Linked DNA regions of Homo sapiens. The protein of the gene in region 2 interacts with the protein of the main gene of each other region in a biochemical or structural test. Each region holds a gene or a part of one and is shown on either strand. Other genes may lie near its edges.

What was found. Proteins that work in one complex are often made in the same cells at the same time.
Region 1: of the proteins of DAB2 (region 2) and PRKCB, one has a biochemical effect on the other in vitro, tested with the Homo sapiens proteins (one study listed by BioGRID).

What each region holds. Positions count from the first base shown.
Region 1 is NC_000016.10:24,180,864-24,185,528, reverse strand, and holds part of PRKCB (protein kinase C beta type), read right to left. Parts: coding exon 4,601-4,665; intron 419-4,600; coding exon 338-418; intron 70-337; coding exon 1-69. UniProt on the Homo sapiens protein: Calcium-activated, phospholipid- and diacylglycerol (DAG)-dependent serine/threonine-protein kinase involved in various cellular processes such as regulation of the B-cell receptor (BCR) signalosome, oxidative stress-induced apoptosis, androgen receptor-dependent transcription regulation, insulin signaling and endothelial cells proliferation.
Region 2 is NC_000005.10:39,374,475-39,380,223, forward strand, and holds part of DAB2 (disabled homolog 2), read right to left. Parts: intron 2,809-5,749; coding exon 2,176-2,808; intron 1,633-2,175; coding exon 1,523-1,632; intron 611-1,522; coding exon 545-610; 3' UTR 540-544; intron 1-539. UniProt on the Homo sapiens protein: Adapter protein that functions as a clathrin-associated sorting protein (CLASP) required for clathrin-mediated endocytosis of selected cargo proteins.

The sequences.
Region 1 (4,665 bases), on a different chromosome or scaffold from region 2:
GGGATAGGCTACGTTGTGTTCCATGATGGATTGGAAGAGTTCATCTTCATCCTCCCCTTCAAAGGGTGCCTGTATGACAGGGGAGGGTGGGAGGAGAAGAATCCCTGCTTGAACCCTCCCCCTAGCTCCCCTCAACTGGCAGACCCTCCTCCCTGGGGCCCACAGTGAAGCCACACACCCAGGCTTTCAAATGACCACAGACTTGTATGACCCCAAGGCCGGGAAAGTCATAGAGGTTCCAATTTATGAGCTGTTACCAAACATGCATTCTCCTAAAGAAACCATGTGGATGGGGGTAGGGAGGACTTCTCTTATCGATCACTTAAAATTCAATTACCTGCCCAGCCAACATTTCATACAGCAGGACTCCAAATGCCCACCAATCCACGGACTTCCCATAGGGCTGATAAGCAATTATCTAGAAAAGAGAAGGCACCCTATCAGGGAGGTTTGCAGTTCATGTTTCTTCTGGAGACAGATTTCACTCTTCTTTTACAAGAAGGCCAGTGCCCACCTGAACTGTTTCTTTATATTAGCTATTCAGGGAATGACAGACATGCTTTGCAGAGGCACCTGCAGCTGGGCAAACACCTGTGGCTGTCACATTGCCTTTTCGAAGCACTAAGTAAGGTGTATTGTTATTATTATTTTCAAAACAGTGAGCATGGAATTTTTAAAAGGAAAAACTGTCTTTACTCCTCTGTAAAAGTTACAACATTTACACAATAATGTAAATATACTTAACACTACTAAATTGTATACTTAGAACTGGTTAAAATAGTAAATTTTACGTTACATGTTTTTAAAACATAATTAAACATAAAAACGTTTAAGAGATAACAACATTTGTCACTATTTTAATATTTCTTTATAAAAGATAGCTCAGCTGAGATAATAACATGAAAATCACCCATAATCCTTTATTAAGAGAAAAATTATGACTAATATTTGGTCTACTTCATTCCATACTCTTTTCTCTGAATACATATTAAACTCTGTGTGTATGTGTGTGCTTTACATAAACACTTTAGTATTTGGACGATTTTTTTTCTTTTTTTCTTTTCTTTTTTTTTTGAGATAGTGTCTCTTTTTGTCACCCAGGCTGGAGTGCAGTGGTGAGATCATAGCTCACAGCTCACAGCCTTGGCCTCCTGGGCTCAAGCAATCCTCGCACCTCAGCCTCCTGTGTAGTTGGGACTACAGGTGCTCACCACCATGCTAATTATTTAATTTTTTGTAGGGATGGGGTCTCTCTATATTGCCCAGACTGATCTCAAACTCAAGCAAAGCTCCCATCTTGGCCTCCCAAAGCACTGGGATTATGGGCAATAGATCTTTAATAAAGCCAGTTATTCACTTAAGTTTTCCTTGCTAATTTAATATTTGTATATGAACATAATCAATTTTTATCTGTGCATAGCATTCCGTTGAATGGATATACCAAAATCTATCTTATAAATTTCCAGTTGATTAGGTTTCTTCCAATGCTGTAACATATATTCTTGTAATTAGACATTTGGACATCTGTCCAAGTATTTCCTTAAGATAAACTCCTAGATGTAGAATTGGTGTATCATATGGTATATATGGTTGTGAAGTTTTTAATTCATATTCCCAAACTGCAAGAACATGGAAAAGTCTAGAAGAGCTATGTGATTGTCCATCTTTCAGTATGCAGGGATGTAAAACTAACCATGTCAGAGGTTAAGAGGTAATACAGCAAAGGCTAAAGGCTGAGGTCTGAGGGTTAGGCAGTCTGACTTTGAATCCTGACTGCTGTCTACCGGTTGGCTGTCTGACCACAGGAGAAGTTACTTAACTTCTATAATCTCTATATCATGAAGTTATGTGAGGATGAATGAGATACTCGGTGGCTTTCACATATTATGCCCTCAAAATGTTAACTAATCCTAGAATGTTTTATAATTCAGTTATTGCTTGTTTAACTCAAAAAGGGTATTTGAGCAAACTTGGCTATAAAGTGAATGTTTGTTTCTTGATCTCTATCTCCCACTTTGATTTCTATTCCAAAATCAGAAATGCAGAGATGTTGATTACAGGATACAAAATTTCAGTTAAGTAGCAGGAATAAATTCAAGAGACTTATCGTGTAACACAGTAACCATAGTTAATAACAATCTATTGTATTCTTGAAAATTGCTAAGAGGGATTTTTAAGTGTTTTTACCATAAAAAAATAAGTATGTGAGACAATAAATATGTTAATTAACTCAACTTAGCCATTCCACAATGTATGCATATTTCAGAACAACATGTTGCACATGATAAATGTATACAATTTTACTGGTCAATTATGAATGAATGAAATGCATTCTGAGAAGTAACCCTCAAGACAAGGAAGGGAAAGCATTCCAGGAGAACACTTCTCATTGAACGTGTTTTCCACTTTGGGAGGCCGAGGCGGGCGGATCACGAGGTCAGGAGATCGCGACCATCCTGGCTAACACGGTGAAACCCCGTCTCTACTAAAAAAATACAAAAAAAATTAGCTGGGCGTGGTGATGGGCACCTGTAGTCCCAGCTACTCGGGAGGCTGAGGCAGGAGAATGGCATGAATCCAGGAGGCAGAGCTTGCAGTGAGTAGACAGAGTGAGACCCTGTCTCAAACACACACACACACACACACACACACACAAGAAACAATGTGGGATGCCCAAGCATCATCCCATTAGAATCTCTGCAGGTGGAGGCCCAGGATCTGTGGTTCTCAGAAGTTCCTCGCTGGTCGTGATTCAGGCAAGCACAAGAAACCCTCAACTGTGTGGCTGGTGAAGTTGCCTCCCCTCCAGCCCACAGATGGGAGGGATAAGCAGCAGGTCAGGCTTTGTCATGAGCTAACCACATCACCTTCGGCAACTGCTGTCACATCCCAGGCTCTAGTTTCCTTTGTAAAAGGATTAACTTGTTGGCTTGTCATGAGGATCAAATAAGACTTGAAGTACTTTAAAAGTGTGGAAACACTTTCTTTCTTTCTTTCTTTCTTTTTTTGAGACAGAGTCTCGCTCAGTCGCCCAGGGTGGGGTGCAGTGGCATGATCACTGCTTACTGCAGCCTCTACCTGCTGGGCTCAAGTGATCCTCCCACCTTAGCCTCCTGAGTAGTCAGGACAGCAGGGGTGACCTAGTGCACCTGGCGAATTTTTAATTTTTTTTGTAGAGATTAGGGTCTCACTATGTTGTCCAGTCTGGTCTCAAACTTCTACCCTCAAGCGATCTTCTTGCCTCAGGCTCCCAAAGTGCTGAGATTACAGGAGTGAGCCACCATGCCCCAGCTGCATCCTACATTGTAAAAGCTCCCTCACGACTCTAAACTGCAGTTAGAGTTGAGAACCAGAGATTATGGAACCCCTGGCCTATCAGGAAGTTGTGTTATGGATTGTGTCCTATCTAATTAATTAACAAAATGATAATAGACCAAAGCATATCACATAGGGAAAACTTCACTGGGTCCGAGTAAAGCCTTATTATTTTTAAAGAATTACTTTATTACTCAAGTAATACCCAAATACATTTACCTTGTAAAAAATGTCAGCAGTATACAGAAATAGCTAAATTTCTCTTTACAATTCCCTTATCCTCAGAGGTAACCAGTGTTATAAAATCAGTTTGAAATCTTCCAGATTTTTGTATGCTTTTACTCATTGAAAACAGAACAGTGTTCTGTGTATTTCTGTTTCATCCATAAATAGTATCATAGTGTTATTTGTCATTCTTCTTCTTTTTTTTTTTTTTTTTTTTGAGACAGGGTCTTACTGTGTCACCCAGGCAGGCTGGAGTGCAGTGGCATAATCACGGCTCACTGCAGCCTGGACCTCCTGGGGCTCAGGTGATTCTCTTACCTCAGCCTCCCAAGTAGCTGGGACTACAGGCATGTGCCACCACACCCGGCTAATTTTTGTATTTTTTGTAGAGACGAGGTCTCGCCATGTTGGCCAGGCTGGTCTGGAACTCCTGGGCTCAAGTGATCCACCTGCCTCTGCCTCCCAAAGTGCTGGGATTACAGGCGCGAGCTGCCACACCTGGCCTTGTATTTGTCATTCTGTACCTTGATTTTTTTCTCTAACAATGTGTCTTGAAGATCTTTTCACATCTACATATATATCTAACTCACTCTTCTGAATTGGTGCCTGGTAGTATTTCATGCTATAAATAAATCACGGGCTATTGTCCATTTTCCTGCTGAGGGACATATACAGGACACAGATCCCATGTCATATGCCAGCCCAGGGGATATGCTCTTTTTCTCTCAACAAACATTTCAATGTCATAATTAGGCGGTATCACATGGCCGTGAGCCACAACAGTTTGACGAAGAATTTTACTGATGTGTGTTGGATGGTTCTTTTGGGTTTTATTTAAATTTTCTCCCAAACCTTGATGTATTTTGGGCTTGGGCTTCTGGATGTGTGCTAAATTAATTTGCATGTGTGATCTCAAAGGGAGGATTTAGAGTATAGAATAAGAATCTGTCCGAGGTTCCCTTGCAAGGTACCACCCTCAACCCTTCCCAGCTCTCACACAGCCATCTGGGGAGCAGAGGGTACATCACCGCAATGTGAACGTGTGCCCAGCAGCTCTCACCTCGGGGGCGATGTAGTCTGGAGTGCCACAGAATGTCTTGGTTGTCACCCCATCCCAGATGTTTT
Region 2 (5,749 bases):
CCTATGAAGGAGATCTTTAATAGTTGTTAAAACTTTCAGATTTAATACCATCAGACTCTTTCAGACTAACTTTGAGATTGCTCACAGTTAAATGGTAGAGAAGTAATGATCATAATCTGTTTTGCTGACTTGGTGGCTTCAGAAAGTCAATGGAATCTGAACCCTTTATAGGAAACCAAATTATTACTAGGTTGTTTTGCAACCACTTCAATATGAAAGTAAAAAGGTTAGAAACCTGTGATGTGTTGTTTTGAGTTTTACTTCCCACACAGAACTGAAAAACCAAGAACATGGAATAAGATAAAAATCCACATCCCCAAGGGTATATTACTATTTTTTGATGTGTTTAGGAATTCTATTCTTAAGTGCCCAGCCTAGTCATTATTGAATGATCTCAGTAGAGATTTTCCTGTCGATTACTCCTAAATTATAGATATTTACCCTCTTCCCAATTCTAAAATTAAAATTTCACTCTTTATTCCATGTCACCCTTTCTCACAAAAACCCCTGAGACAGGCTTATTAGGATCTTCTACTTACAGAATTTAGGCAAAAGGATTTCCAAATGGATCCCTATACATCTCAGAAGATACAGGTTGAGAAGAAGCCACCTAAGAAGATAAAATCATCTAGTCAATAAATACAGTTACAGTCATAAGAAAAAAATCGCAATGAAGACTTCCAAAATTCTTTTAAAAATCGCTTAGGTCATAGGCCAATCAGCCAATCAAACATTATATGGGGCTTACAGTGTTTTGTTTTCATCTGCTTGCAGATGGCAGTGTATATTATTTATGTGAAAATCAAGGTTCAGATGCATTTCATTTGCCTCCCCGAAATGGGAAGTATTATTTTCACAGGCTATAGAAATATTGTTGGAAAATTAAGAACTTAAATTTTTGAAAGGTTTTCAAGACAGTATTTTGGCTCAATTTTCTCCCGAAATGCTTTCATGGGTCAGGTTAAGTGAGATATGAAGGATGTTTTCTATGTGATATTATTTCTCAAATTCAGAAGATAATAGTTCTTGTGCAAATAATCTTTCTCCAGTTTAAATGAATGTTTATACTGTGAAGGTTCTTGGTGACAAATCTTAGCTAAACATGTTTTACCATCAAAAAGCTATTATAGCCAGGTGCGGTGGCTCATGACTGTAATCCCAGCACTGAGGGAGGCCAAGGCAGATGGATCACTTAAGGTCAGGAGTTTGAGACCAGTCTGGCCAACATGGCGAGACCCCATCTCTACAAAAAAATACAAAAATTAGCCAGGTGTGGTGGCACGTGCCTATAGTCCCACCTACTCAGGAGGCTGAGGCAGGAGAATCCTTTGAACTCAGGAAGTGGAGGTTGCAGTGAGCTGAGATTGCACCACTGCACTCCAGCCTGGCCGACAGAGCAAGACTCTGTCTTAAAAAAATAAATAAATAAATAAAAGCTATTATAAAAGCAAGGTTAATTCAGGAGGCTGGAGCTCTATGTGGCATGTACTTTGGAGAAGAGCTTCTAGTAGTTCATACTTACAGAGGCTTGTGATGAACCAAAAGAATCTTTAAAGAAAGGGTTCTCAAATGCATTGTCAGTAGATTTGGTAACTGGCAGGGAAACTTGTCTGGGAGCTGGCTTTGGTGGTTCTAGAAGGTAAAAAATCCAGGCAATCAGTAGACAAGCTTTCCCCAAATATAGGCCAGTCCCCGAGTCAGCTTATTTTTGAAGTTTAGTTCTATACTTTTGAAATTTACATCAGTGGAACAAAAATCAACACCAAATACTAGGTACCCCAATAATTATTATCCTTCTCGGAAGAGAAAGCCATGCATATTTATCTGAAGTGGAAGAGATTCAGAATCCCCTCATTTTAAGCTGATGGGACATGGATGACGCCTTATTACACAGCCCTCCAAGAGTCACCAGTCATCACATTTCAATAGCTCATGGCAGCCCTTTTAAGATTTATCACTAGAGGGCAGCATTGGGTCAGTCCTCAGAAATGACTAAGGTAAATAGTTATCACCAAAAGGTAAATGGTTAAGTTGTCTCCGTAACCCTTGATTACCAACAGAAGCAAGAGCAAAGCTGTTGGCGGGTGGGAGAGGGTTCATTTGGGGAACTCATTTAGGTCCATGTGGCAGTGGAGATAGTTGTTGGAACAGTAGGCAGAGTGGTGAGTGGCTTACCATTGATCTTGTTCAATAGTTGATTAGCATCAAAGTCATCATGGTCTGCATTCTCCTGAGGAATGCCAACCTTGCTGTTGAAATAACTGGCAAAGGCACTCAAAGTCCCAGAAGAAGTCTGCTCTCCCTTCCGCGCGGGCACAGCAGGTGGCTGCCGCAGTTGGAAATCCTTAAACATTTCTTTCACATCCTTGATCTCTTTATCCCCAAGTGGGTCTAAGGCAGTGAAGGCATCACTGGAGATGTCCTTGGGAGGGCCAGCTCTGGGAGGTGGCTGAGGAGGAGTGACCAGGAGAGAGGAGTGCATGGATGGGGGCTGAGTGGACACAGCAGGAGCTGGAAAAATATTGCTCTGAAAAGGATTCCCCAAAGGGCTTGTTGTTGACCAAGCATTGGGTGCCACAGATGCAGAAGGGCCCCAGACAACAGGCACTGGAGGGGGAGTTGAGGCTGCAAAGGGTGAAGGCTGGTTCCAACCTGAAACAGCTGGACTTGTACCAAAAATGACGGGCTGACTAAAACCTGAAGGTTGACCACCCATCATGGCTCCCGGAGCCATTGAAGGGGACTGATTGAAGACCAAAGATGCTGTGTTCCATGGTCCTGCCTGAGGGAGTGTGACAGTTACACCACCTGAAGTAAGAGGAAGAAAAATACTTATCAGGAGTCAAGCTTGAAGAAGATTCTTGAATTTCAGAGAGCACAACTCTCTGGAAAGCCTCTCCACAGCTAACACCTCCATTGAGCCCTGAGGCTGATATGGGAAGAATATGACAGATTAATCACTGTAAAAGTTAGCCAGCTAACACTGTATAGTGAGCATTCAAATGCTGGTTGCATTTTGAGGCCCATGTTCTTCCTACCATGTCTTTTTAACTTTCCTGATTAGAAGGGTAGTACGGTCCATAAGTATCTACTCATCAAAAAAATAAGCCCTTATCATACAGACACTAGTTGTCTGATACATCTCAAACAACTAGAACAGAGCCTGTTAATAGCAGGAACTTATTTAAGTGAATATATTTTTATGCATGAACCATGCTGATTATGATGTAGTTAATTAAGATAATCCATTGGACTCTCTGAGTCACAGATTTGATCTTTTCATTTGGCAACTGGCTCACGTCTGGAGTCTTATGGAAACCAGCAATCACACATGTGCACAAGACCTCAACATGCTTGCATCCTGAAGAAACCATTTCAAAGTTTCTTCACTTTTTATTGCTGCCAAGACTGATACAGCTATATACATAAAGGGAAGATAAAGTTTGGCCAATGCCAAGATAGTTTTAGACGTTTATATATAAAAATGGAAGAAAGGATGTTATCCTAGGAAGACTGTTTCAAATAAAAGTGCTTCCTGCCATGTGCCATTTGCTAAACCTTGCCAGAAGTTAGAACAGAGAATTTAAAAGAGGAGAGAGGACAATGGGAAACAAAAATCTTTCAAGGTAACTAATGGCCTGTGTTGGGGCATCTGATCTTTGTGGTGAATGGCTCCATCTCCTACGACCTTGCTATGTCATCAGGAATTCGTTAAATCGCCAGAATCCAGGCCTCTCCAATGATGGCCTCTGATTCTTGAGAGGCTCGCTCCCTGCATCTTGTTCTAATATACAGGGCACTGTCTTTCCTGCCTCTTTCCAAGTGCATTAATGATTCAGTTAAACTCACCGCTAAGAAGGAAACCTAAATTCAGCCTCATATCTATTAGTGGGTGATGCTTCGCTCTTGAAATCTACTTGCTTTGAGCTTTGGTGCATGGCATTCTTTAGTTATGAAAGTTTTCTTCAGACCTGGGTTAGGGACGTTTATGTTTCCAAGAGGGAATACTTTGAAAATGGTATTTAGGAGTGATGGAGCACAAGATTATATCTTCGAGCTTCTTAGTCTGAGACATTGGTATTACCTGACTCCATTCTCATCATGCATGCTGGCCATCTGGCCATGGGCACACATGGTGTACTCACAGAGAGTGGTGGGTTTCAGAACAGGCCATTTCACTTAATCAGCATGCTTTTTGGAGGTGAGGAAACTGGGTGCAAGAATATTCATTAAAATTGGGAAGGTCATAGTCTGGGATGGTAGAAACTGAAAATCAGGCACACTGGCTCTAAATCCGGCACCCCATTCTCCTGTTCTGCTTCCTTGGCAGCAAGGCATGGGGCAATTTTAATTTTCAAATGCTATGTTAATTCAAATACTTATTTCACGGATACAGAAATTAGACTTCATTTTCACTGAAGAATATACTCCTTTCATAACAAATCAAGAGAAAAGTTATATTCTACAATACAGGCTCTAAAAATGGGTTTAGTTTGAACAAAGTTGTTGCTTGTATTTTAAAACACATTCAATTAAATTGTATTAACAGAAGCCAGATCACTTGCTAATAATTTCCACCAGTTAGCTGTGCAAAAAGGAGGGTAGAATTTTATCATCTTTCATGTTGGACAACTTGTCTTCATTTAGGAAAATATCATATTAGTGAGAATGGTATTTGTAAAAGAGAAAAATATTAGGGCTGGGCGCAGTGGCTTACACCTGTAATCCCAGCACTTTGGGAAGCCAAAGTGGGAGGACCACTTGAGGCCAGGAGTTCAGAACCAACCTGGCCAACGTGGCGAAACCCTGTCTCTACTAACATACAAAAATTAGCTGGGTGTGGTGGCGCATGCCTGTAATCCCAGCTACTAGAGAGGCTGAGGCACTTAAACTTGGGAGGCAGAGGTTGCAGTGAGCTGAGACAGCACCACTGCACTCCAGCCTGGGTGACAGAGTGAGACTCTGTCTCAAAAAAAAAAAAAAAAAAAAAGGAGAGAAAAATATTACATTTGCCAGGAATTCAAGGCTTTCCCAGTATATACTTATACCAGTCTTCATTCCTACCCACCAAATCCCCACATTGTGTTTTAACACATTGAACACATTGAACACATTGACAAAGTAGGGGCAAGGAATAAGGAAAAAGGGGACATGGGTATAGAACATTAATTTTATTACCTTCTGAGGCTAGATTAAAATACAAGCAAGTTGAATCTGAGGGCTCAGCTTTCTACAATACCCTCTCCCCACCCCCCCAGTTCTCCAGGGGAGACAGTCCCCCAGCTGGGTCTAGCGGAAGCCAGACCTACAACCTTCCATGGTTTGGCTGAGGATCCCTGCTAGTGGACAGGGACTATACTGTAGAGCTCAGTTTGAGTCCCATGTCCAAACTTGGAACAATCATCAGTATTCTGCAGTTGTATACCCCAAGCCCTCAACAGGGGCACCTAGCCAAAAAGCTTCACTTCGTCTGAATAAATAAACAGTTATAGGGTCCAGCTGTATTTTCAGGCTGACTTGTTAAATATTGGCTGCAAAAATTCTTAAGGGCATTGATATCAGATAAAAAGCTCTGTGATGTGATCTCGCTGCAGACATTGCATTGCAAGCACTCTGGTCTTCTGTGAGGGAAGGGTACCAACCAGCTCCACTTGGGGGTGCAAGGAAAAGAGCAACGCAGAAAGGGGGAAGCCCCCAAGAGACATGAAGTCTTTAGAGAGAGCCTCTTGATGGGGTAAATGCGAGCAGA